Linked DNA regions of Homo sapiens: regions 2 and 3 are each reported to be linked to region 1. Evidence: microRNA targets listed by miRTarBase, many of them from high-throughput screens and not tested one by one. Region 1 holds a microRNA gene; each other region holds the end of a gene's coding sequence.

Region 1 (8,067 bases):
CAAATCCTCTGGCTTCAGGTGGCCCGGCGCGGGGGCCCAGCACGACGCACCGCGCCGAGAACCGGGTTCTCCGTGCGCTGCGCCAGTAGCCCTGGGAGCGCGGCGGCCGCGGGGCACCGGCCGAGGGCTCTGCCGAGCGCCGCCGGGAGCTCCTCCCGGACCGCTGAGGCTCGGGCGGCGGGCGCGGAGGTTGGCCTCGCCTGGAGGGGCGGGCCCGCGAGGGGCGGGGGGCTGTGGAGGAGGGGAGGGCGCGCAAGCCCTTTCGCCGCCTGCCGCGGGAGGGGCCTCGGCGCTCACGTGACTCCGAGGGGCTGGAAGAAAAACAGAGCCTGTCTGCGGTGGAGTCTCATTATATTCAAATATTCCTTTTAGGAGCCATTCCGTAGTGCCATCCCGAGCAACGCACTGCTGCAGCTTCCCTGAGCCTTTCCAGCAAGTTTGTTCAAGATTGGCTGTCAAGAATCATGGACTGTTATTATATGCCTTGTTTTCTGTCAGTGAGTAGACACCTCTTCCTTCCCCCTCCCCGGAATTCACTCTGCCCTCACCACCCCTGCTCGCCGGCTGTCCCTTCCGTCGGACCTCCTTTACAATATCCACACTCTGCTCCCTGGCAGCACTGTCGCTCCCTTCTTGGCCCGGCAGCCGGGGCGCTGGAAGCGTACGGGTTCCTTTTAAAGTGCTGCTAGCGCGCACTCGCCCTCTCAGCGTTGCAAGAAAGGGGAGCGCGAGGGAGCTAAAGAGATGAAAGCCCGGGGTTGTACCTTGAGGGCTAACCACTCCCTTCCCCTATCCAACTTGTCTGGGAGAGCCCCCAGTGTCTCCGTGGCGCGTTCCCACTCTCTTGTCAAAACTCACAGAGGTCTCTCCGGAATCGTCTCTCACCCCTTCCCTGGGGATGAGCGGGCACGATCAGGCACTTTTGGCTGAATATTTCAAACTCATCGGCCACAATAAAATAAGCCCTCAAGCCACCCGGTTAGCTCCCAGACCACCTTCTCGGCTTCTGGACCCTGTCGCCCTCTGTCTTCGCCCAGCCCCTGCCTCTCACTTTCCCTCCCTCTGGCTCTGAACCAACTGGAAGTTGTGAAAGTTGGGCTCTGAGGGTGGAGGAAAAGGGAGAGAAGCTGAAGGTCTAAAGTGGAGAGCAATGCCATTTTAATTCTCCCTCCCCCACCCCTTTTCACCCCCTCAATGTTAACTGTTTATCCTTCAAGAAGCCACGCTGAGATCATGGCCCAGATAGCAGTTAGGACAAAAAAAGATTAACAGGATGGAGGCTATCTGATTTGGGGTTATTTGACTGTAAACAAGTTAGACCAAGTAATTACAGGGCAATTCTTACTTTCAGGCCGTGCATGGCTGCAGCTGGTGGGTGGGCGGGTGGTGTGAGGGAGAAGACACAAACTTGATCTTTCTGACCTGCTTTCCATCTTGCCCCTCCATTTCTAGCCCTAAATGCATATGCAGACACATCTCTATTTCTCCCTATTTATTGGTGTTTATTTATTCTTTAACCTTCCACTCCCCTCCCCCTCCCCAGAGACACCATGATTCCTGGTAACCGAATGCTGATGGTCGTTTTATTATGCCAAGTCCTGCTAGGAGGCGCGAGCCATGCTAGTTTGATACCTGAGACGGGGAAGAAAAAAGTCGCCGAGATTCAGGGCCACGCGGGAGGACGCCGCTCAGGGCAGAGCCATGAGCTCCTGCGGGACTTCGAGGCGACACTTCTGCAGATGTTTGGGCTGCGCCGCCGCCCGCAGCCTAGCAAGAGTGCCGTCATTCCGGACTACATGCGGGATCTTTACCGGCTTCAGTCTGGGGAGGAGGAGGAAGAGCAGATCCACAGCACTGGTCTTGAGTATCCTGAGCGCCCGGCCAGCCGGGCCAACACCGTGAGGAGCTTCCACCACGAAGGTCAGTCTCTTCCCCCAGTCTGCGTGGGGGAGGGCTGGTGGGACTGGCTAGAGGGGCAGTGAAAGCCCTGGGGAAGAAGAGTTCGGGTTACATCAAAGCCCCAGTCCAGGAGGCTGAGGAACAGAGCTGCTTACCTCCAAGAATTTGCAGAGCTGCCGCCGAACTTATTTTTTGGAGACAGAGGGGGAGGTGTTCAGGGGAAGGGGAATGACAGCACTCAGACGTGGGCTAGCCCCAGCGGTGTGTTTTTGCTATATCAAAGCCTTTTCTGCTAGGTTTTCTGCCCGTTTTTTTCAAAGCACCTACTGAATTTAATATTACAGCTGTGTGTTTGTCGGGTTTATTCAATAGGGGCCTTGTAATCCGATCTGAATGTTTCCTAGCGGATGTTTCTTTTCCAAAGTAAATCTGAGTTATTAATCCACCAGCATCATTACTGTGTTGGAATTTATTTTCCCCTCTGTAACATGATCAACAAGGCATGCTCTGTGTTTCCAAGATCGCTGGGGAAATGTTTAGTAACATACTCAATAGTGGAAGAGGGAGAGGGTGGTTGTCTGCATGTTTCCTCCTGCCTGTGCTCTGTTGGCCCCTCTTTTTCTTTACAACCACTTGTAAAGAAAACTGTGGACACAAAGCCAAGGTGGGGGGTTTAAAAGAGGAGTCTGATTGTGGTGCCATAGAGGAGTTGACACATAGAAATTATTAGACATATCAAGGAGGCTGGATATAGTTTCTGTCTTTGGTGCTTGAGAAATGCTAGCTACATTTTGCTGGTTTGTTAGCTGCCCCACTTATCTGCTCCTTCAAATTAAGGGGTATGCTTATTTTCCCCCAGTAGGTTTCCCCTGCATAAGCAGAATTCACCATTCATTGCCCAACCCTGAGCTATCTCTTGACTCTTCCATCTTTGAAAAAAGTTCATATGCTTTTTCTTTTCCCCTTCCTTCCTAACTGTGCCTAGAACATCTGGAGAACATCCCAGGGACCAGTGAAAACTCTGCTTTTCGTTTCCTCTTTAACCTCAGCAGCATCCCTGAGAACGAGGTGATCTCCTCTGCAGAGCTTCGGCTCTTCCGGGAGCAGGTGGACCAGGGCCCTGATTGGGAAAGGGGCTTCCACCGTATAAACATTTATGAGGTTATGAAGCCCCCAGCAGAAGTGGTGCCTGGGCACCTCATCACACGACTACTGGACACGAGACTGGTCCACCACAATGTGACACGGTGGGAAACTTTTGATGTGAGCCCTGCGGTCCTTCGCTGGACCCGGGAGAAGCAGCCAAACTATGGGCTAGCCATTGAGGTGACTCACCTCCATCAGACTCGGACCCACCAGGGCCAGCATGTCAGGATTAGCCGATCGTTACCTCAAGGGAGTGGGAATTGGGCCCAGCTCCGGCCCCTCCTGGTCACCTTTGGCCATGATGGCCGGGGCCATGCCTTGACCCGACGCCGGAGGGCCAAGCGTAGCCCTAAGCATCACTCACAGCGGGCCAGGAAGAAGAATAAGAACTGCCGGCGCCACTCGCTCTATGTGGACTTCAGCGATGTGGGCTGGAATGACTGGATTGTGGCCCCACCAGGCTACCAGGCCTTCTACTGCCATGGGGACTGCCCCTTTCCACTGGCTGACCACCTCAACTCAACCAACCATGCCATTGTGCAGACCCTGGTCAATTCTGTCAATTCCAGTATCCCCAAAGCCTGTTGTGTGCCCACTGAACTGAGTGCCATCTCCATGCTGTACCTGGATGAGTATGATAAGGTGGTACTGAAAAATTATCAGGAGATGGTAGTAGAGGGATGTGGGTGCCGCTGAGATCAGGCAGTCCTTGAGGATAGACAGATATACACACCACACACACACACCACATACACCACACACACACGTTCCCATCCACTCACCCACACACTACACAGACTGCTTCCTTATAGCTGGACTTTTATTTAAAAAAAAAAAAAAAAAAGGAAAAAATCCCTAAACATTCACCTTGACCTTATTTATGACTTTACGTGCAAATGTTTTGACCATATTGATCATATATTTTGACAAAATATATTTATAACTACGTATTAAAAGAAAAAAATAAAATGAGTCATTATTTTAAAGGTAAATCATGATTTTTTTTTTCTCCTTAATCCTTTCTCTTTTCCTTCGGGCTCATCTCTTTTGAATGAGGCTTTTTTCTGTTCAGGTGAGTTGGAGGCTGGATGGAAGTCAAAAGGTGGTACCTGGAGGTGGTTAAGTTGTAGGGACAGGAAGTAAACTGTTGGCAGAGAGAGATGGTAATTGCCAGCATGAATTGTTTTCTATTTCTATTTAATGTTAACAAGGATGCAGTATCCTCTCCCATCTGGATGACACATGCCTTGGAGAAACACTGGGATGAAAGGAGTGTAGGTCAGATTAAAGACTTCATTTCAGGCCCCTTGTACATCTTCTGTTTCACTCACCTGTTGAGGTGTATCACAGCTGAGCGTGATGAGGTCTCAACCCTAGAAAAATGATACCCACCTCTGCTTTCATGATACCTCAGGGTATCTCCAGTTATTACAGGTACCAATGTGATATTTCCAAATCAAAACTAATTTGTACACTAACATCATAATGTGTGTGTGAAGGCATGTTTTTAAACTTATTTTTTTTTTCTCCAGGTAGGACTCTTTTGTTTTTTCTTTTGTCTTTTTTTTTTTTTGAAACAAGTTCTCTCTTTGTTGCCCCAGGCTGGTCTTGAACTCCTGGGCTCAAGCAATCTTCTCATTTCGGCCTCTTTGGGATTACAGGCATGCACTGCTATTTTGTCTTTTTTTTTTTTTTTTGTAACAAATAATGTACCCTACCTTCAAAAAGTTTGATGACTACTGTTTTAATATGCCACTTGATAGAATTTCCCATTGTTTCTTGACTTTTTCCCTTGTCCTCTTTTCCCAATGTGAAGGCCTTCATCAAGTTTAGGATCCCAACAGATTGGGCTGGGTGGGGGTTGACAATGGGGTCAGATACTAAAGGGTCAGAATTTCTAAGCAGGCACTGTGAAGGTGTCCCACTATTATACAGAAATCTCGAGTCAAATGTCAACTCTCCTTTTCGCTCTGTACTGCCTCCCTCACACCCTCTTCCCTGGACTTGGGCAGAAAGAGGTAGATCTGATGTTCTGTGCTAGGGTTTCTTAAAGGGAAAAGCTCAATTTTTGGACAAAGTTAATAAAAAGGAGGATGCTAATGTACCCTCAGTTAAGGGCTCCCAGCAGGCAGATAAATGCCTTTCTGGAATGACGGGTGTAGGGATTAAGAGGAGCAGAGGAGAGGCCTTTGCTTTTTCTTACTTGCCACCAACAACTAAATTAAGCCTTGAATCTTGGTCTGTGCTGGCTCATTTCATATGTGTGCTGAGAAAATTCACACATATGAAGTGAGCCAGCACAGACCAAGATCCCTTTGGATCCCTTTGGAGCAGAAACATTTAGTGTCTTTGTATGTTCTCTGTGGGGAAGGCTGATAGCGCATTTCTCCATCATGAAGGTGTAGATATGAGCGGTAGTATTGCTGTTGCTGGTGGTGTGTGCACCCAAAGAATGTGTGTGGTGCACACTCCTGGCGTTTGCATTTTTCTAGGTGGGGTGTGCACCCTTGCATTCTTGTACACACTTTCTTACATACGCTCCTGGGAGTGGAGTGGGTGAAGCAGGATTCATTTTTGTTTTTAATTACTGAAGTCCTACACTCCTCCAAAAGGAGCAGCTTAGTGGAAACCAATAAAAATTGAAGCGGGGTGGTTGCCAAAACCCCAGCTCCCCGGAGAGCGCAGGTGGAGAGAAGACATCAGAGCCCCAGGCAAAGGCAGCAAGACTACACAGTTCCTCCAAAACTCCCCGCAAAAAGGGATCCTTCCCCCACCCCTCCAACCCCCCAGGTCGCTGCCCCTTTGATTAATGGTATGGAGCTCAAATAAATCATTTAGGGAAGCCCCTTATAGATTGCCCTCAGGCAGCCTCATTTTGTTTTGCCCAATTTCTAGCAACTTTCTGAAACGTCGATGTCATTGAAAAGGAACCAGTAGATCTCCAGTACTTGAACAAATTATCCTAGGGCCAGTACTGAGCCCTGTGGCTGTCCAGTTCTAGCAACCAGCCCCTTCCTCCATCCTCCCCGCTCCTACTGGCTTATTTTCAGGAATGGATAATGTTGTTTATTTGTTCAGCCAAATATTTGGTCTGGGGAATTTACCGTGAAATTCTGTGAATTGCATATACCTAGTTAACAAAATAGTCCTAATGCCACAAATGTTAGCATGGAAAACAAAGAGCTATGGCCAGCGTTAACTCTTTAAATTCTGTTTGAAAGCTTAGTCCTGAGACCCGGGGAGATTAAAAAAAAAATAAAAAAAATTGGATGTGTGTGATTTAGGTTTCGGCATTTACTATTTTTGCCTAATATTCAGTTCAGTACCTGACGGAAGTCGTAGGGTGATTCTCGGCGTTGCTTTTGGATCAAGCCTACCATTTCACCCCATTCATGTTTTTTTTTTTTTTTTTTCTCCAGAGTAATGTTCCTATTACTGAAAGAAAGATGGGGAGGGAAGCTCGCCCTTGAGGAGTTCGGCAAAGTCGTAACCACATCAGAGGAGCTGCTTGGTCGATCCCTACCCAACCCTTAAACTGGAACCGGCTTCCTAGGAGCTTAAAAAAAAAAAAAAAAGGTTGGGGGGGTGTGGAGTGGGACGCATCAAACATTCCCCTGCTTTCGTTGCATAATTCGCCCAGAACCTGCCAGGTGACCTGCTGACTTTGTTTTCTGTCTTGACCGTGCTTCGTTCCACACCCCCCTCGCCGCCGGGCAGCGCCACACTGAGAGGGCTCGGCGCGTCCGCGGCGCGGGCAGACCCCAGTAGTCACCCGGCCTTGGACTGGCGTCAAGATCCAGCCCCGCCGACCCCGCCTCCCGCCCGCTCTGGAGCTCCCAGGCCCGGCGGCGGCGGGGGCACCAGGGGGCGTCCTCCCTGCGGGGGACCAGGGGGACCGTGCACCTGGCGACGGCCCGCGGGAGCCGCGCGGCAGGCGGCCACCCCTCCCCATCCCCGCCGACCGCGGACTGCGGGTCCCCCAGCCCGGGCCCGAGAGCCGGCCCGCTCATCCGCCCTCGGGGACCCAGGCCTCAGGTGAAGCTCTGCAGACACAGACGGATCTGATTAGCGCTCGCTGGTCCTTGGGGCGGTCGCTCTGCAGATTTCATGCGAAATGGGGTCAAAAGGCCGCGCAGAAGCGTGGAGTCTGCAGGGGAAGGCTCCCCGGGGTGGAGGGGCTTAAGAGGGGTCGAGACCTTTAGGGGTTTTCTGTAGGGGGCAGAGAGCGGGAATTAGGGAGCGAGGCTCTCCTGCCTCCGAGCTCACAGTGGGCCTGCATATGGGGGTGACTCAATGGGAGCGGGGACGTGGGCGAGTGGGAAACAGGCCCGCTGGGTGAGGGTCGGACCTGCAGACTGGCCCTGAAGGCTGAGCCGCTGTCTTGGGCCCCTTGGGGACACGGAGAGCCCTGGGTCCCAGCTGAACTGCAGCCAGGGCCCCGCTCCCCAACAGTCGGGGGACGGAGGTGAACGGGAGAGGCCACGGGTGTGCAAGAGTGGAGCTGGACGATTGCTTTCAGAAATGAGATGCCAAGCCATGATACATAATGACAGCACCTCAGCTGACCTCCGCAGGGCCTCTGGACCGGGGACTCACCGTGCCCGCCCCCACTCCCTCTCCAAAGGTGAGCCAGGAGCATAAAGCTTATCCCAGGCCCAGGTCTCCGAACTATTTGTCATCAAAGATACTTTTGCTTCAACACAAAACCAATTTTACAAACTATTCACATACTCTCTTTTGAAAAGGAAAAGAATAATGCAAATGCAACGTTGGTGACCTTACATTACCTGGGAATCAGAAGGTTATTAGTATTCCCTAGGGGAATTTAGGATAACTGGTGGACTGCCAAATTAGAATTGATGCAAAGTTATTCAGGCTTACCTTGTGATACAAACTAGCACAATTCTGAAAACTATAACTGGAAATTAAATTCAGAGTGGTTAGAAATGTGGTCTAGGTGGGATTGCAAGGATCTCATTTCCCTATGCATTTAGCACCTAATGGCAGAATAAATAAACAGAA
Region 2 (7,000 bases), not on the chromosome of region 1:
AGCGTGGCAGCGGAGGCCCTCGAAGCCCTGGTCCCCTGCCTCACGGTGACCAGCAAGCCCGAGGGCTCCACAGGCAGAAGGCGGACCCAGGAGGGCAGGGAAGCCCCGGGTGAGGAAGCGGAGAGGCCCGGGCCTGCGCGCTGGAGTGCCAGGGGCCACCCTGTCCGGGCAGGTGCGGTCCTCAGGGCCGCCTCCACCCCGCACTGGGCTGCCAGCCTGTCCTTCGCGCACTCCCACCGGACCCGTCCGTCCACCGGCCTCGGCCTTCTGATCCGCTCCGCCCGCCCCGCTCTTGCCCCTTAGAGTCACAGCGATCTATCTGAGCTACGGCACCGGGCACAGGCGGAGCTGGAGGACTCGGGGCCTTCCCATGGGGCGGGGGGCCGGGGACGGGGGAAGGCACCGGTGGGCCCTGGAACCAGCTCCCCTGGGATCCTCCGCGCAGGTCCCCTCCCTCTCACTCCAGAGTCCTGAGGCCTCCTACTGTGAGGGAGGAGAACAGCCGGATTCTCCTCCTGAATCTGGGGGGGCGGGGGCTTGACCAGGACCCAGGATCAGCCTGGAGAGAACTGGGGGCGACGCGGGGGTCCTGCCCCCCACGCAGTCCGCGGGCGAGAGCGACGCCGGGAGCGGACCGAGGGGCGGCCGGGAGGCTGGCCCCGCCCCGCGGACCCCGCGCGGGTCCCCAGACGGGGGGTGGCGCTGCGGGCGCGGGCGGGCGCCGCGCGCACTGCGGTCCCCGCGCCTCCGCCGCAGAGCGCGCCACGCTCCGCACGCACCTGCCGCCGTCGCCGCCGTGCCGAAACCCGCGCCCCGCGCCCCACGCCCGCGCCCGCGCCCCTCGGTGCCGCCCGGGCCCCGCCATCGCCTGAGGTCGCTGCGGCCGCCGCCGGAGCCGCCGGAGCCCCCCGAGCTGCCGGGCCGAGGCGCGGGCGCCGCGTCCGGGCCTGCCTTTGAGACAACCTCTGCGGCGGCGGCGCGCGGCCGGGACGCCAGGCTGGGGCAGGTGAGCGCAGGGGGCGGGGGCCGGGGGCGGACTCAGCGCCCCTCCCCACGCGACGGGGGTCGGCCCTCGGGAAGGTGCGTCTGGCCTTGGAGGCGGGGACCGGGGAGGGGGTTGGGTTCTGAGGCCCGCGGAGGTCGGGATCCCACGGCTGAGGTCAGGGTCAGAGGTCGGGCGCCCGGTCCTTTGTGCAGGGCGAGGGCTAGGGTGGGGGTGGCCGGGGCACTGCCCTCATGCCGTCTCTCACCTGCAGCTCAGGCCTGGCCCAGGCCTCGCCTCTGCTCCTGCCGCGGAGCCTGCCGCCCCGGTCCTCCTGCAGCCAGCGCTTCGGCTAGCTGCCTTCCCTGGGCGCCCTGTCCTGGAGCCATGGGGCCCACCCAGCCCCTGCCTGCCCCGATGTCCCGGCCCGCGGCCTGCTGACCTCGGCTGCAGGGGGAGCCCCCCCCGCGCCCCCTCGCCAGCCTCAGCAGCCAGAGACCCTGGGTGAGACCCTGGGCCAGACCCCCAGCCCAGGGCAGCCTCCCACCCCTCCCTGCCCCCGCCTGCCTCCCCCTCCCCCACCCCTTCCTCCTCCTCCCAGGACTGGACCAGAGAAGCCACTGTGGCCACTGGGGGGGGCCCTGCACCCCCAACTCTCGCCGGCTGTCCCTAGGAGTCCACGGGCCGTCCGGGGCCCCCCCCAGGCCTGGCGGGACCAGGATGCTGCCCTGTCACCTGCCCCCCAGCCCCACACAACGCCCCCACCCACCCGAACATCCAGTCTGACTGGAGACAGCCGGATGCCCTCTGACCCCGGGCCCGAGGCGGGCAGTGGCTGGCCGGGCCTCCTCATGTCCTGCCTGAAGGGTCCCCATGTCATCCTCAAGATGGAGGCCATGAAGATTGTCCACCCTGAAAAGTTCCCTGAGCTACCGGCTGCCCCCTGCTTCCCGCCTGCTCCCCGGCCCACCCCAACTCTGGCACCCAAGCGTGCCTGGCCCTCAGACACAGAGATCATTGTCAACCAGGCCTGTGGGGGGGACATGCCTGCCTTGGAAGGGGCACCCCATACCCCGCCACTGCCACGGCGGCCCCGTAAGGGAAGCTCGGAGCTGGGCTTTCCCCGCGTGGCCCCAGAGGATGAGGTCATTGTGAATCAGTACGTGATTCGGCCTGGCCCCTCGGCCTCGGCGGCTTCTTCGGCGGCGGCAGGCGAGCCCCTGGAGTGCCCCACCTGTGGGCACTCCTACAATGTCACCCAGCGGAGGCCCCGCGTGCTGTCCTGCCTGCACTCTGTGTGTGAGCAGTGCCTGCAGATTCTCTACGAGTCCTGCCCCAAGTACAAGTTCATCTCCTGCCCCACCTGCCGCCGTGAGACTGTGCTCTTCACCGACTACGGCCTGGCCGCGCTGGCTGTCAACACGTCCATCCTGAGCCGCCTGCCGCCTGAGGCGCTGACGGCCCCATCCGGGGGTCAGTGGGGGGCTGAGCCCGAGGGCAGCTGCTACCAGACCTTCCGGCAGTACTGTGGGGCCGCGTGCACCTGCCACGTGCGGAACCCACTGTCCGCCTGCTCCATCATGTAGTAGCGCCTGCCTGCCCGCCACTGCCCGCTGAGCCTCGCTCGCTGCTTCTTCAGGGACCCGGCCCTGCCCTGCCGCCCGCTGACCCTTCCTTCCCCACCATGGCTTCCGGCCCCACCCCGAGTGGCATTGTCGCTGCAGCCAACTTTGCCATTAAAACTCTTTGCCAAAGTTTGCACCTGTTCCTGGACTGAAGCTTGCTCCTGTGGGCTGTGCTCAGGCCTGGGCCTAGGGTGGGCACCCAGGGCTGCAACCCAGAGAGGGCCCAGCTTGGAGCTGCCAGAGAGAGGCCCAGCGCTGCTCGGGTTGGGCCTGCCCTGCGCACTGGGGGCCAGGCTGGGCTGTGCATGCAGCTCAGGAGGGCCGGGTGGGCTGTGTCGGTGCAAACCCCCACACGTACAGAGTGGGCTGCTTGTGTGCGCCTGGCAGGACTACCTGGTGGGTGTGCAGAGACACCCCAGCTGGGCAGAGAGGACATTTTCAATGGTGTGGGGGTGCCTGTGTGGGGGACAACTCAGTTGATTTCCCTCCTGGTGCCCATCTGGACCTGAGCACCCACCTGGGTCTTCCAGGGTTGTGTGGGAGTAGCCTTTGGGCATGTGCAGGAGTTAGGGACAAAGACTGGCTGAAATGGTGGTAGGGGAATAAGGACCCAGCGCCTCCTGTCTGGCACCTGGACCACTTGGGTGGGAGGAAGAGCCCGCCCCAGGCTGGGTGCGGTGTCTCACGCCTGTAATCCCAGCACTTTGGGAGGCCAAGGCGGATGGATCACCTGAGGTCAGGAGTTCAAAACCAGGCTGGCCAACGTGGTGAAACCTCTTCTCTACTAAAAATACAAAAAAAATTATCCAGGTGTGGTGGTGCATGTCTGTAATCCCAGCTATTCAGGAGGGTGAGGCAAAAGAATTGCTTGAACTCGGGAGGTGGAGGTTGCAGTGAGCAGAGATCGTGCCACTGCACTCTAGCCTGAGTGACTAAGTGACGCTCTGTCTCAAAAAAAAAAAAAAAAAAAAAAAGCCCGCCCAGATGGTGAAGATGGGGTAACAAAGACAAGTAGTAACAATGGCATCCCCAGGAGCTGGTTTATTGAAAGCTGCTTCACGTTCCAGGATCAGTCCTCCATCTCTCGCTGGGCCACCTGATGTCTCCATCCCAGGTGTGGTGACATGAGGGTGTGCAGGGGCAGAGCTTATGTTCCAAGGCCTGGGTGGGCCCTTGTCCCCTGCAACACAGGCCAGCGCCAACCCCCACCTGGTCTGGGCCTGATCAAGTGGGGAGAGGAGCCTTTGCAGGCTGAATTTTCGCAGCATGGACCCCTCCCCCGGCTGGCCTGACCTTCAGGGACACACACTGGCCCTTATCTGAACACAGGGTGGGCGGAGTCCCTGCCCTCTCCAAGGAACTGACTCACTGCTGTATCTCTGTTTGCTTTCATGCCTGCTGTGCTCAGCTGGCCCTCGGAGGGGAAGTGTGGCCGGCGTCAGCCCGTGGCCAGTACGGTGCCCGTCTGCCGCAGGGTGAATGGGGTCCTGCTCACAGACTTTCCTGCTGGGCTGGCCTCCTCCAGGAGCTGTCCTTGGGCGCTGGTGTCCTTGGGTTCAGCTAGTGTCTGGGCAGCAGTGCAGCCATGGACTCTGGCAGGGTCAGGCCTCTGGGTAGCCCTGGTTGTGGGTTCAGCAATGGGAGGTCTTGATTGAAGGCCACTGCCCTGGACCCAACCTTGGGTTTTTCCAGCCTGGTCATCAGGCCTCACAGCACCCAGGCATGGGGACGTGGGCCAGTCTGGGCCCCCTGGCCTGTTGGCGGCGGGGCTGTCCTGGGCTCTGCTCAGCGGCCAGAGCGGTCCAGGAGCACGAAGAGCAGTCCCAGCAGCAGGAGCGGCGTGAAGACCAGCAGCAGCCCCAGAAGCTCAAGGGCCAGCAGGCTCAGCAGCGCCAGGCGGCGGGCACAGGGTCCCCGCTCCCGCAGGGTCCAGAGCCGGGCACCCAGGCAGGGTGGACAGGGCAGGAAGGGCAGGCAGCCCCGGCCGCCCACGGGCCCTGCCAGGAAGCGCAGCTGGTAGCGGTGCTCCAGGGAGCCCCAGGGCCCAGGGTTGCGGTGATAGGATGCAGGGGCCTCTCGGCGGGGCTGGCGTGAGGGCCCGTCGGCCTGTAGCAGCTCCTCCTGTAGCCGGCAGATCTCCCATTCCAGCACGGGCGTCTTCTGGCGGCACAGCGGGCAGCGCACCCGGCCCAGGTCGGCACTGGAGGCCGAGCCCAGCAGCCTGTGCAGGCAGCCCACACACAGGCCGTGGCTACAGTTCAGCAGGGCCAGGCGGCGCTCTCTGGGCCCGTAGGGCTCTGTGCAGATCGGGCACTCCTCCTCTTCCCCCTGCCCTGCTGCCTGCTCTCTCCCCTCCTCCTTCCAGGTTGGAAGGGCCCAGGCACCCTCCATGGCTTTGGCCCCCAGCAGGGGCTCACTGGCTGTAGTCTCAGCACCTTGGGGGTGCCCAAGGTCATCCCCTTTGCTTGCTGGTGCTTGGCACAGAGGGTCCAGGCACTCAGGGCCCAGAGAGGACCCAGGTGGACTGACAGGCCCAGAGCTGGAGTCGGCCAGGTGGAGGGTGGGGGCCCCAGGGCACAGTTCAGGGGTGGTGGCCCTGGGGCAGGAGTCAGGATAGGAGGACAGGGACCCCAGGGCGGCGACAGGGGCGGCCCTCAGGGAAGGCAGGGTCTGGGCTCCACCAGAGCTCTGGCACTGACCTCCCGGCTGGCTCTCCTCACTGGAAGTGGACTTGACTGGGGCCCCAGCAAGGCCTGCCTGCTCTGGGTGGATCCTGGGCCCACGCGGTGCTGTCCCCAGCCAGATCTGGCTGGAGCCCAGCCTCAGCCATGTTTAGTCCTGTGCCAGCGACCCGCCGACGACAGATCAAGACTCCAAGACAGCGAGGCGGGTGTGAACAGCCACCGAACTCCTCCAACAGGACTTTCCTTCCCAGTGCCTAAAGCCCCTCCCGGGGGTGGGGCTGCACAACCACGCCCCCTCCTGCCGCTCCTCTTTCCGGCAGTCTCGGCTCCCTAGCGGCACGGACGGCTTGGTTCCGCCTTCCCAGCACCTGCCCAGAACGCAGTCCTGGCGATCAGATCTTAGCCGACCCACTATGCCCTTAAGAACGAGGCAGTCAGGGCGCACATCCCATTAGAGGCAGACATAAGAGCTGCAGAGGCCACTCGGGCACAGGCAGCCCAACAAGGGTGCACCGTGGCGCCCACCCATCCAGCACCCAGCACCCAGGGCACCGGGAGGAGCTAGAGGACGCCCACCCATCCAGCACCCAGCACCCAGGGCACCGGGAGGAGCTAGAGGACGCCCATCCATCCAGCACCCAGCACCCAGGGCACCGGGAGGAGCTAGAGGAAGGAAGGAAGCCTGCGCTAGAAGTAACCACCCAGAGGCCACCATTTACTGCAAGGGTTTTTCTGGGACCAGGAGAGGAAGAGGCTGCTCTGGCCTGGGACACCCCCACTGCTCTCAAGGAGCTGGCATCTCAGTGGCCTCTGAGCCCAGCCTGAGCCCTGTGGGAGTGCGGGGGCAGTGACTGGAATGTGCTGCTGGGCAGGCTGCAGCAGCCGAGGTGGCCCCAGGGCAGAGGAGTGCAGCGCAGCCTCATGGGTGCCCTATGCCACCCCTGGTGCTCACTGGGCTGCTGATGCCGTCCTGGGTCACTGCACCGGTGAGGTGGAGCGGCCCAGGCCACCACCTTGACTGGGAAGGGGGTGGGGGGACGAGGACACAGCTCACTGTCAGGGTGGGGGAGCGCAGGGCTGGCTGGGCAGAGGCTGCAGTGGGGTCAGGCTCAAAGGGTGGGATCCAGGGTCAACAGGAGTGCGGCTGTGCTCGGGAGCTGGCTGTTCCCAGAGGACCAGCTGGCTGGTCCGAGAGGATGACGGCTGCTGGCCAGGAGCTCCCTCGTGGATGCCTTCCTGGGCTCCCAGGAGGATGGCTGTCAGAGGGGGCACGGGCAGCCGCGGGCCTCAGGCCCACGTCTCTGTCTGGAAGCGCCGTGTCTGCTGGAGCCTGGCTAGATACGCGGCTGCGTCCGGGCTGCAGAGTCCACCCTCCTCCTGGAAGATGGACATCAGGGCTTCCGAGACGTCCGCTGGCATGGACTTGGCGTTGCTAGAGGGGCAGGTCGCAGAAGGCGCAATGAGGCCTGGCACTCAGGGGCTGGGCCCACTCCTGCTGCACGCAGGCCAGCTCACCCTGCCAGGTAGAAGTATGCACCCTGGCGGTCCAGCAGTTCCCACACAAGCGACCCCAGCTCCCGGAGCCGGTGCTGCACATATACTTTCTGCTCCTGTAGGGCAGAGAACAGGGCTGGGGGCTGAGCCGGAGCTCCCTCCCCTCCTTTCCCAGCCCCTGAGCATACACACCTGTTCCCGGGAGAAGGCAGGGA
Region 3 (7,000 bases), not on the chromosome of region 1:
TATGGCAAATGTAGCACAGGGCCCATGATGGCTTTGGCCTTGAGCACGGTGGCTTTGACTGGAACAAAAGGCCGGGGAGCATGCTTGCTGTGGAGACGGCCTCAGCTCCTCACTCTGCAGAGCTTGGCCTTTCCTGCCATTTGTTTGGCCATTGCTGGTAGTGAGAAGCCTCTCGAGCCCAACAAACCAGTGTTGTGTGGTTGTTCATGTGCTTGATGGCTCTGAGTAAATGTGAAAGCTTGAACTTTGTGAGCTAAAAATACTGGTAGCTATCATTAAGTCCTCTGAGGCCTTTCTTTTTCTTCCTTTGAGAGGTACTTCATTCATATGATGTTAATGGTCTCTGGACTGAACTCTTCACGGTCTCCTTATAGGGAAGTATTTGTTCCCAGAGCAAAATTTAACCTGTAAGTTTCTTAATGGCAGGTGGCCGTTTGCTGAGTGATTCCTATGCCAGGATATCAATGAAGAATCCAGGGGCTGGTCGCAGGGTGTCACCTGAGTTACTGTTGTTTGGGTTTTCTTCTTCTCATATAGGAAAAATAAAATAATAGTAGCACATCAGAAAGTATGGCAGGGTTTTCCTTGGAGTCTCATGCCTTGTATTAAGGACTGTCTTCAGGGTCATTGGGATGAATATGTCTAGTTTCCAGAGTCACTGCAGTGGTGAGAGTGGTGGTGGGGAATCCTTGTGGTGCCTTAGGTCTGTCTTGGGAGAGGGGAGCAGAGTGTACTGCACCCTGAGGAGAACCCGGATTTCAGGTGTTAAGATCGAGATTTGTTCTTCCACAGACTAAGAGCTGGCTCAGGGCAGGAGCTGGTCTGTATGGTGTGTCCCCAGCCCCAGCACAATGCCTGCCCCCTAATAGGTTTGCAGAGAACATTAATGTCCAATTGGGTGGCCTACATCAAGTTTCAGACGGTGGAAACCCTTTTTGACAAAGCAAAGCAAGCTTAAAGCAGTCTCAGATGTTCAGATCTGTACATATTTCATTCTTTCTATTTTTGATTTTTCTCTAGTGACAAGAAAAGGAAGTTAGAGGCCAAACAAGAACCCAAACAGAGCAAGAAGTTGAAGAACAGAGAGACAAAGAACAAAAAAGATATGAAACTGAAGCGGAAGAAATAGTGAAGAGAAACTCGGGCATCTGTGTTTGATCATGGGAAGATACTCTCACTAACTGAACCCTCTCTGGCTGGACTGTTAAAAGCAACGAGAGGCCCCGGCACACCTGGAAGCTGGCCGCGAATTCGGCCTCTGGGCCTGTGTGTCTGTGAGCTCAACCTGGCTAAAGGCAGAGTCACTCCCAAATGGGTCTCTTTAGAACTTGATGGCTGGGCACTGCCATCTCTAGAATTGCCACGAGTCTCTCTCTTCCTGCCCAGTCCAGGGCCCTCCTTTCCTATAAGTTCATATTTTGCTTTGAGCCAGCTTTTTAGTCTCATTCCCACACATGTGGAAGCCACGTTGCCTCTCGACCGCCTGAGGCCCTTAAGTACATCGCTTTCTGGTGGTGCCCAGGAGGCTGCTGCTGGGCCGCTGGGTCTCTCTTTGTGGACTTGTACCTGGAGCAGGAGGAACTCCAGTCCGTCCCGGCATCCATGGCAGCCCGCGGTTAGGTGCGCCAGGGTTTGCTGATGTTGTCTTGTGCTGTTCCACTCTTGGCTCCAGCAGACCCACTGTCCCAGAAAAGCCTGATCCTGTAGTTTATGTAGAATGCCACATCTGCGTCCTCAAGACCTGTTTCATCCATTTGGGAAAAGATGTTGGGAAAGGCCACTTTGCTCGCAGGGGTGAGGGGAAGGATAGAGAATCTATTTTTAATAAATAACATTCTAGAAAGATCAGCTGCCTGTGAGTGTTCTGAAATCCACGCACCTGGACGTTTCTTCTGGTGGGTCTTGGCTGCCTGGTGGAATTTGGAAGGTGTTGGTATCAAGGTCAAAGGTGAGCAGTGTGTCTAGGGCTTCCCAGCCCAGGAGTCTGCGGGAGAAGTGGCAGGTGGCTATGGTCACCTCGAGGGGCTTGGTGTGGTGGCTGGAAGCCAGCTAGAACTGCCTCATTTCCTTCCCAGCTCCTTCCAGGTCACTTGGTCCCTTCCATTTGTTGGGAACAGAGGTAACCTGGTGGCTTTACACATACTTTGGTATGTTTGTTTAATGGTATCCAGGCTAATGAGTCTGCAGCCCCGATATGTTGTCTAGGTTCAGAGAAGGACAGGGAAGGAAACGGTAACTTCTCAGCCTAAGGGTATTTCATATACAGCTCCTAGGACTCGTCCCCACAGGGAGAAGAGCAGGTTCTGTATGCGACCCTAGGGCTGCTGAGGCTTGTCACCGAGGCTGTCAGGACATGAGCCTAGGGGTCTTTCGTTTCTTGGGACTGAAGTTTCCTGGCCACAGACCTCTGTTAGGTCTGTAGGAAATTTTGCTGGAGGCAGGGAGGGGGCATGAAAATAATTTTTATTTATTTTCTCAGGTGGGTGCCTGAACCTGCCTTTCAAAGAGGGTTTTCTTAGACCGTGGCCAGAAGCAGAGTCACATGCTCAAATGGTCAGAGCTGGATGGGACTGTGCAAGTTGTCCAGGCATATCATCCTACAGGTAAGGAAGCTTTTGTTTAGTGTCTCTACCCTCAAAGTCTCCCCGGCTGGCTCTGCTTTGGGGTGCAAGGTGAGGGCTCTGGAGGTAGACTGCTCTGCCCTGACGCTCACCGTGGCCTTGGGCAGGTTACTTCATCCTACCTGCCCTTCAGGTCCATTTCTGCAAAATTTGAGTGGTAGGAATAGCACCTCCGTCACGGGACTGTGGTGAGAAGTGGGTGGGGTAGAATGGGAAACGTTTAGAACAGTGCCTGGCACATAGCAAGTGCCTCTGGGTTCTGGGCACTCATCAGATCTAACTAGAGGAGCCGCTCAAGTTCAGTTACATGCCAGCTCTAAGAATACTCAATAAGGACTAGCTGTGGTGTTCTTTTGAAAACAGACAGGGTCTTGCTCTGTTGCCCAAGCTGGAGTGCGGTGGCTCAATCATAGCTCATTGCAGCTTTGAACTCTTGGGCTGAAGCCATTCTCCCACCTCAGCCTTCCAAGCAGCTGGGAAGGTGCTCACCACCACACCTGCCTAATTTTAAAAATTATGTACAGATGGAGTCTCAATATGTTGCCCAGGTTGGTCTGGAACTCTGGCCTCAAGTGATCCGCCTGGGCCTCCCAGAGTATAGGGATTAGAGGCATGAGCCACCACACTTGGCCAGGACTGGCCATGTTATAAAACCACAACCTAAGCTAGAAAAGGAGTCTCCCTTGGCCAGCGAAGAGCATGCATTTTGCAGTCAGACTTGTCTGGCTCTGTATAATATCTCTGTATCCTTGGACAAGGCCTCTTTATTTGCAAAGTGTGTGTTCCTAAACACACGCTTGGGTCTTTGCATTTTATGGTCATGATCTTGGGTTCTCCTTCAAACCTGAAAAGGCATGTCTCCCCCACACCTCACCATCTGGCCCCCAGACAGAGTGACATCTGTAAAGCTTGGCTGTCTTAGGAAATGTCACTTGCGAAATGAATTCAGATAGGCCAGCCATGAGTGCTGTCACCAGAAGGGGAAGAGCCTGAAGAAGCCTGAACAAAGAAGGTTACTAAATGGTCACCCCCCATACCCCCTCGCCAGGCGGGGCTAATGCCGGCCTGCTTCAGTGCTTCCACTGCTCATCTGGCCCGGAAGTCCCGGAGGACTCCGGATGACCAGGAGACGGGACACAAAGGGGGCCGCTGAGGCTGGGAGGTGGGGGAGGGGCAGAAATAAGTGACCGTCACCTTGGAAAAATGTAGACTCATTATCTGAGGCCTGTTACAACACCCGCAGCCATTCTGCAGGCCTGGAGGAGGGGGTGGGGTCGGAAGCCCCTTGGGCTGGAATAGACAATTTCAGGGGATTGCCCCTGAGGGGGCATGCCCTTGATTCTACAAACAATTGGTTCCAGTTAAACATCATCTGGATCCTGCAAAGCGGACTTGAAAGGCAGCCTGAAAGGGAGAGGCCGGGGCTTCCTGCTTGGGCTGGTTCCGTTGAGAAAGCTCTAGCCACCTGGTATCTGGCACGGGGACTAATGTGGAAAAGGATAACTGGCCTTCCAGGCCGAGAGCCTAAAGGAAAGCTTCAGGAGAAGATTTGAATGCAGGAAAGAAACCAGACAGCCTCAAAAAGGACAATCTCAGTGTTAGCCCTGTCGGTGCAGGAGCAGACTGGTACCTGCCACCTCTGGAGAGGTGTTTTCTTTGGAGACGGCTAAGGCGCCAGCTTATGCTTGCCTGTGGACCCACTGGAGCCGAGTGAAATCCCTGTAGATGCAACCCATGCTCACAGCACCTGGGTCCTCAAGGGCTCCAGTAAGAGGGTAACTCCCCCAAGCCTGCCTGTGGCTGCTCATAGCAGGCGGAGCAGGGCAGGCCGTGAGCAGTGGCCCGGAATTAGGAGGTCCAGCTGCCTGGGTAAGTGATCATTTCTGTTTGAGTCCTAGCCCCTTGGAAGCATGTCTGCTTTTTTTTGGTAATTATTTTAATTTTAAATGTTTATTCAAAAATGTATTCCTGCTACCCACAGGCTCCAAGGGGCCCGCTCCCTCCTTCCTACCTCCACTTTCTCTCAACCCCCCACTCACCCTCTCAAGAGAGGAAATGGTGGATCCCTCATCTGGAGCCAGAATGCAACTAGATCTTGCTTTCTAGGCTGGGTACGGACCAAGGCATGTCCTGCAGGGATGGGGGAACTTGTGGGGACGCTGGACACAGACCCATGAAGGGCAGCCACTTTGAATGGCAAGTGCTGGGGACGGACAGCCCGCTCCACCACCGTCTTGGGCCACTGCACAGGAAGATGGTGTGGGGGAGTGCGCCCCCTCCTAGTGGCCCCCAGAGGGCACCATGGGTCTGTGCGGCCACAGGTCCCCAGGCTGGGCCTCGAGCTGCCCTGCGCAGCTCCTGCTGGAATTGGGCTTTGCCAGGGACTGGGATCTTTATGTCGTTCCCCTAACGCCTGAGTCACGGCCGGTCACTGACCCACAGCCACTTTGGTTCAGGTTCTCAGTGACCTTAGGAATTTCTATACCTGTTTCAGGCAGGCAGGCAGGCGACTTTTTTTTTGAGAGAGAGTCTTGCTTTGTTGTCCAGGCTGAGGTGCAGGGGTGATCATAGCTCACTGCAGCCTCGAACCCCTGGGCTCTGTGATCCTCCCACCTCAGCCTCCTGAGCAGCTGGGAATACAGATGTGCACCACTATGCCCAGCTAACTGGCAGGGAATGTTTTAAAAACTTATATTTGTGCCTGAACTTTGCACCTAAAACTACAGCCATAACTCCAGTACACTCTTGGACCTGAGTCGGCGCCTCACCATCTCCCTCCATTACCTCTGCTAGTGGCCTTGTGGTGGTACAGCCAGCTTAGCTTAGCTGGGCCTGGGGGCAGCAGTCACCCAGGGATAGGTCCCTCAAATCAATCAGGCCAGGTCAGGCCTGGGTGAAGGAGGCCCTGCTGCCACTTTGGTGGGCTGTGCCATTTGGGGATGTGCCTCTGAAGACAACCCCCAAAATAGCTCCCACATAAAGGGCCGTGGAGGGGATGGGAGTGGAGATCAGGAAAGCCTGATAGTGTCATATTCCTCAGTCATTTGGTGTCTGTCCAGCTCAGTGGCACACATGTGCTTAATTAAATGTGAGCGTGGGCGGGTGAGGAATGGATCCAGGCTTCGTTTCTGGAGAGAGGCGAGTGCTGGGTGGCCACAGCAATGGCTTTGGTAGGGTCTTGGCTCTGAGAGGGGGGAGACCTGAGTAACAGCGTTAGCTCTGGGATCTCTTCCTGGTCCTAAGGGGCTCCTCCCCAGTTCTGAACTCTGAGTAACCCTCTACCAGGAGCAGTGAGGCCAAGGTCATTGTTAATGAGTGTTTATTGTTAATAAAACCATAGTACATTTACAGTAAGTGACAACATTATTGTACAGTTAAAGTATCATACAATATTACAGCAATAAAATAATGCCTATTTCTTTGTACATCCAGCCAAGCAGCTAGTCAAAATATTTTCCAGAATTGCAAGCCCCTGGGGGCTTTTCAGGGTGACCTGAGTGCCACCTTCTGAAATGCCTGGGGCTTTTGGTGAATAAATAGTTTTTAAGGTGCGGCCAGACAGCTGAAGAAGTTGCACCCAGACAGACTGTGCCTGATGCTGCCCCAGTGTCTGGTCCATAAATATGACAGGTGTCAGGGGAGCCCAGGGCCTGCAGAATTCGAGGGCAAGGCCGTGAGGGGACACAGCAGAAAGGCCTCTTCTCCTGGCCCTTACCTTCCATCAATGCCCTGTCCTTTAATCTCCAAGAGTCACAGTCCCCAGTGGGACCTGTTTGCCCAGCTCTCAATCCTACATTAAAGGAGCCGAGAGACTTGACCAGGGGACTCTGCTTCATCGCCCCCACAAAGGCAACCTAGTCTAGGCCTGAGGTTCCAGAATCCACCCATTTACTTTGGCCCCTAAAACCAGCAGCAAAACAAGAGCTGAGGCCATTCCTACACAGCACCCCATCCCCTACCCCTTGCCCCTCCATGCCAGACTTAGCTCAGAAACCATCAAGCTGGGGAACTGCCCTCTGCTGCTAACTGAGCAAGCTGGTAGTCCTGATGGGAGGGACTCTGGAAGCCCAGGCACCAAAGACAATGGGGGAACTCCGGGTGGCAGCAGTCGTGGTGGCAGGGGGGGGTCCACAGGCCACTGGATGCCCACATTAAGCCTGTCAAACCTTTGAAGAACAAGTTTGGGGATTTGGGCAGCCTTTGCTATGTGACATTTAGGAAGAAAAATACCAGCTTTTGAATTACTGCAGACGACTGGGGGCCTAGGCAGTATGCATTCTATACATTCATAAGGATTCCTGTACCCCCAGGAGCCCCAGTTGGGATGGTCTGAGTTTACTGAGGCCCTAGGGGTGAGTAGAGCTTGGAGGGCCTGGGCG

The links. Region 1 holds the annotated microRNA hsa-miR-5580-5p (UGCUGGCUCAUUUCAUAUGUGU, at 5,289-5,310, shown strand). A microRNA usually pairs through its seed, bases 2 to 8, with sites in the 3' UTR of a target mRNA and lowers its output. Matches are read on the target gene's strand: a 7mer-m8 pairs with bases 2 to 8, a 7mer-A1 pairs with bases 2 to 7 and ends in A, and an 8mer does both.
Region 2: miRTarBase lists NDOR1 as a target of hsa-miR-5580-5p. Seed matches in the 3' UTR shown: 7mer-A1 at 6,496-6,502, 7mer-m8 at 6,470-6,476, 7mer-m8 at 6,448-6,454, 7mer-m8 at 6,368-6,374 and 7mer-m8 at 5,313-5,319.
Region 3: miRTarBase lists NAT10 as a target of hsa-miR-5580-5p. Seed matches in the 3' UTR shown: 7mer-m8 at 1,427-1,433.

The regions. Positions count from the first base shown.
Region 1 is chr14:53,945,706-53,953,772 of GRCh38, reverse strand. MIR5580 (microRNA 5580) reads left to right here and starts at 5,289; the gene lies at 5,289-5,346. It overlaps BMP4 (bone morphogenetic protein 4), which reads left to right. Exons shown (of 4, transcript NM_001202.6): 2 at 373-497; 3 at 1,544-1,920; 4 at 2,885-4,037. The coding sequence starts at 1,551. The coding sequence ends at 3,741. RefSeq lists a promoter at 1-17, silencers at 24-113, 164-233, 6,874-6,923 and enhancers at 6,894-7,424, 7,425-7,957.
Region 2 is chr9:137,215,995-137,222,994 of GRCh38, reverse strand. It overlaps NDOR1 (NADPH dependent diflavin oxidoreductase 1), which reads right to left. Exons shown (of 14, transcript NM_014434.4): 12 at 6,978-7,000; 13 at 6,807-6,901; 14 at 3,634-6,723. The coding sequence ends at 6,579. It overlaps RNF208 (ring finger protein 208), which reads left to right and starts at 755. Exons shown (of 2, transcript NM_031297.7): 1 at 755-1,006; 2 at 1,257-2,736. The coding sequence starts at 1,783. The coding sequence ends at 2,568. LOC122513141 (ring finger protein-like) reads right to left here and starts at 5,501. Exons shown (of 1, transcript NM_001395982.1): 1 at 3,634-5,501. The coding sequence starts at 4,998. The coding sequence ends at 4,393. RefSeq lists silencers at 163-212, 1,153-1,202, 5,454-5,631 and enhancers at 3,571-4,310, 4,311-5,050, 5,051-5,790.
Region 3 is chr11:34,145,064-34,152,063 of GRCh38, forward strand. It overlaps NAT10 (N-acetyltransferase 10), which reads left to right. Exons shown (of 29, transcript NM_024662.3): 29 at 1,021-1,845. The coding sequence ends at 1,129. It overlaps ABTB2 (ankyrin repeat and BTB domain containing 2), which reads right to left. Exons shown (of 17, transcript NM_145804.3): 17 at 5,924-7,000. Among named protein-coding and RNA genes, the nearest start is that of NAT10, 43 kb to the left of the region's middle. RefSeq lists enhancers at 1-147, 378-547, 4,857-5,386.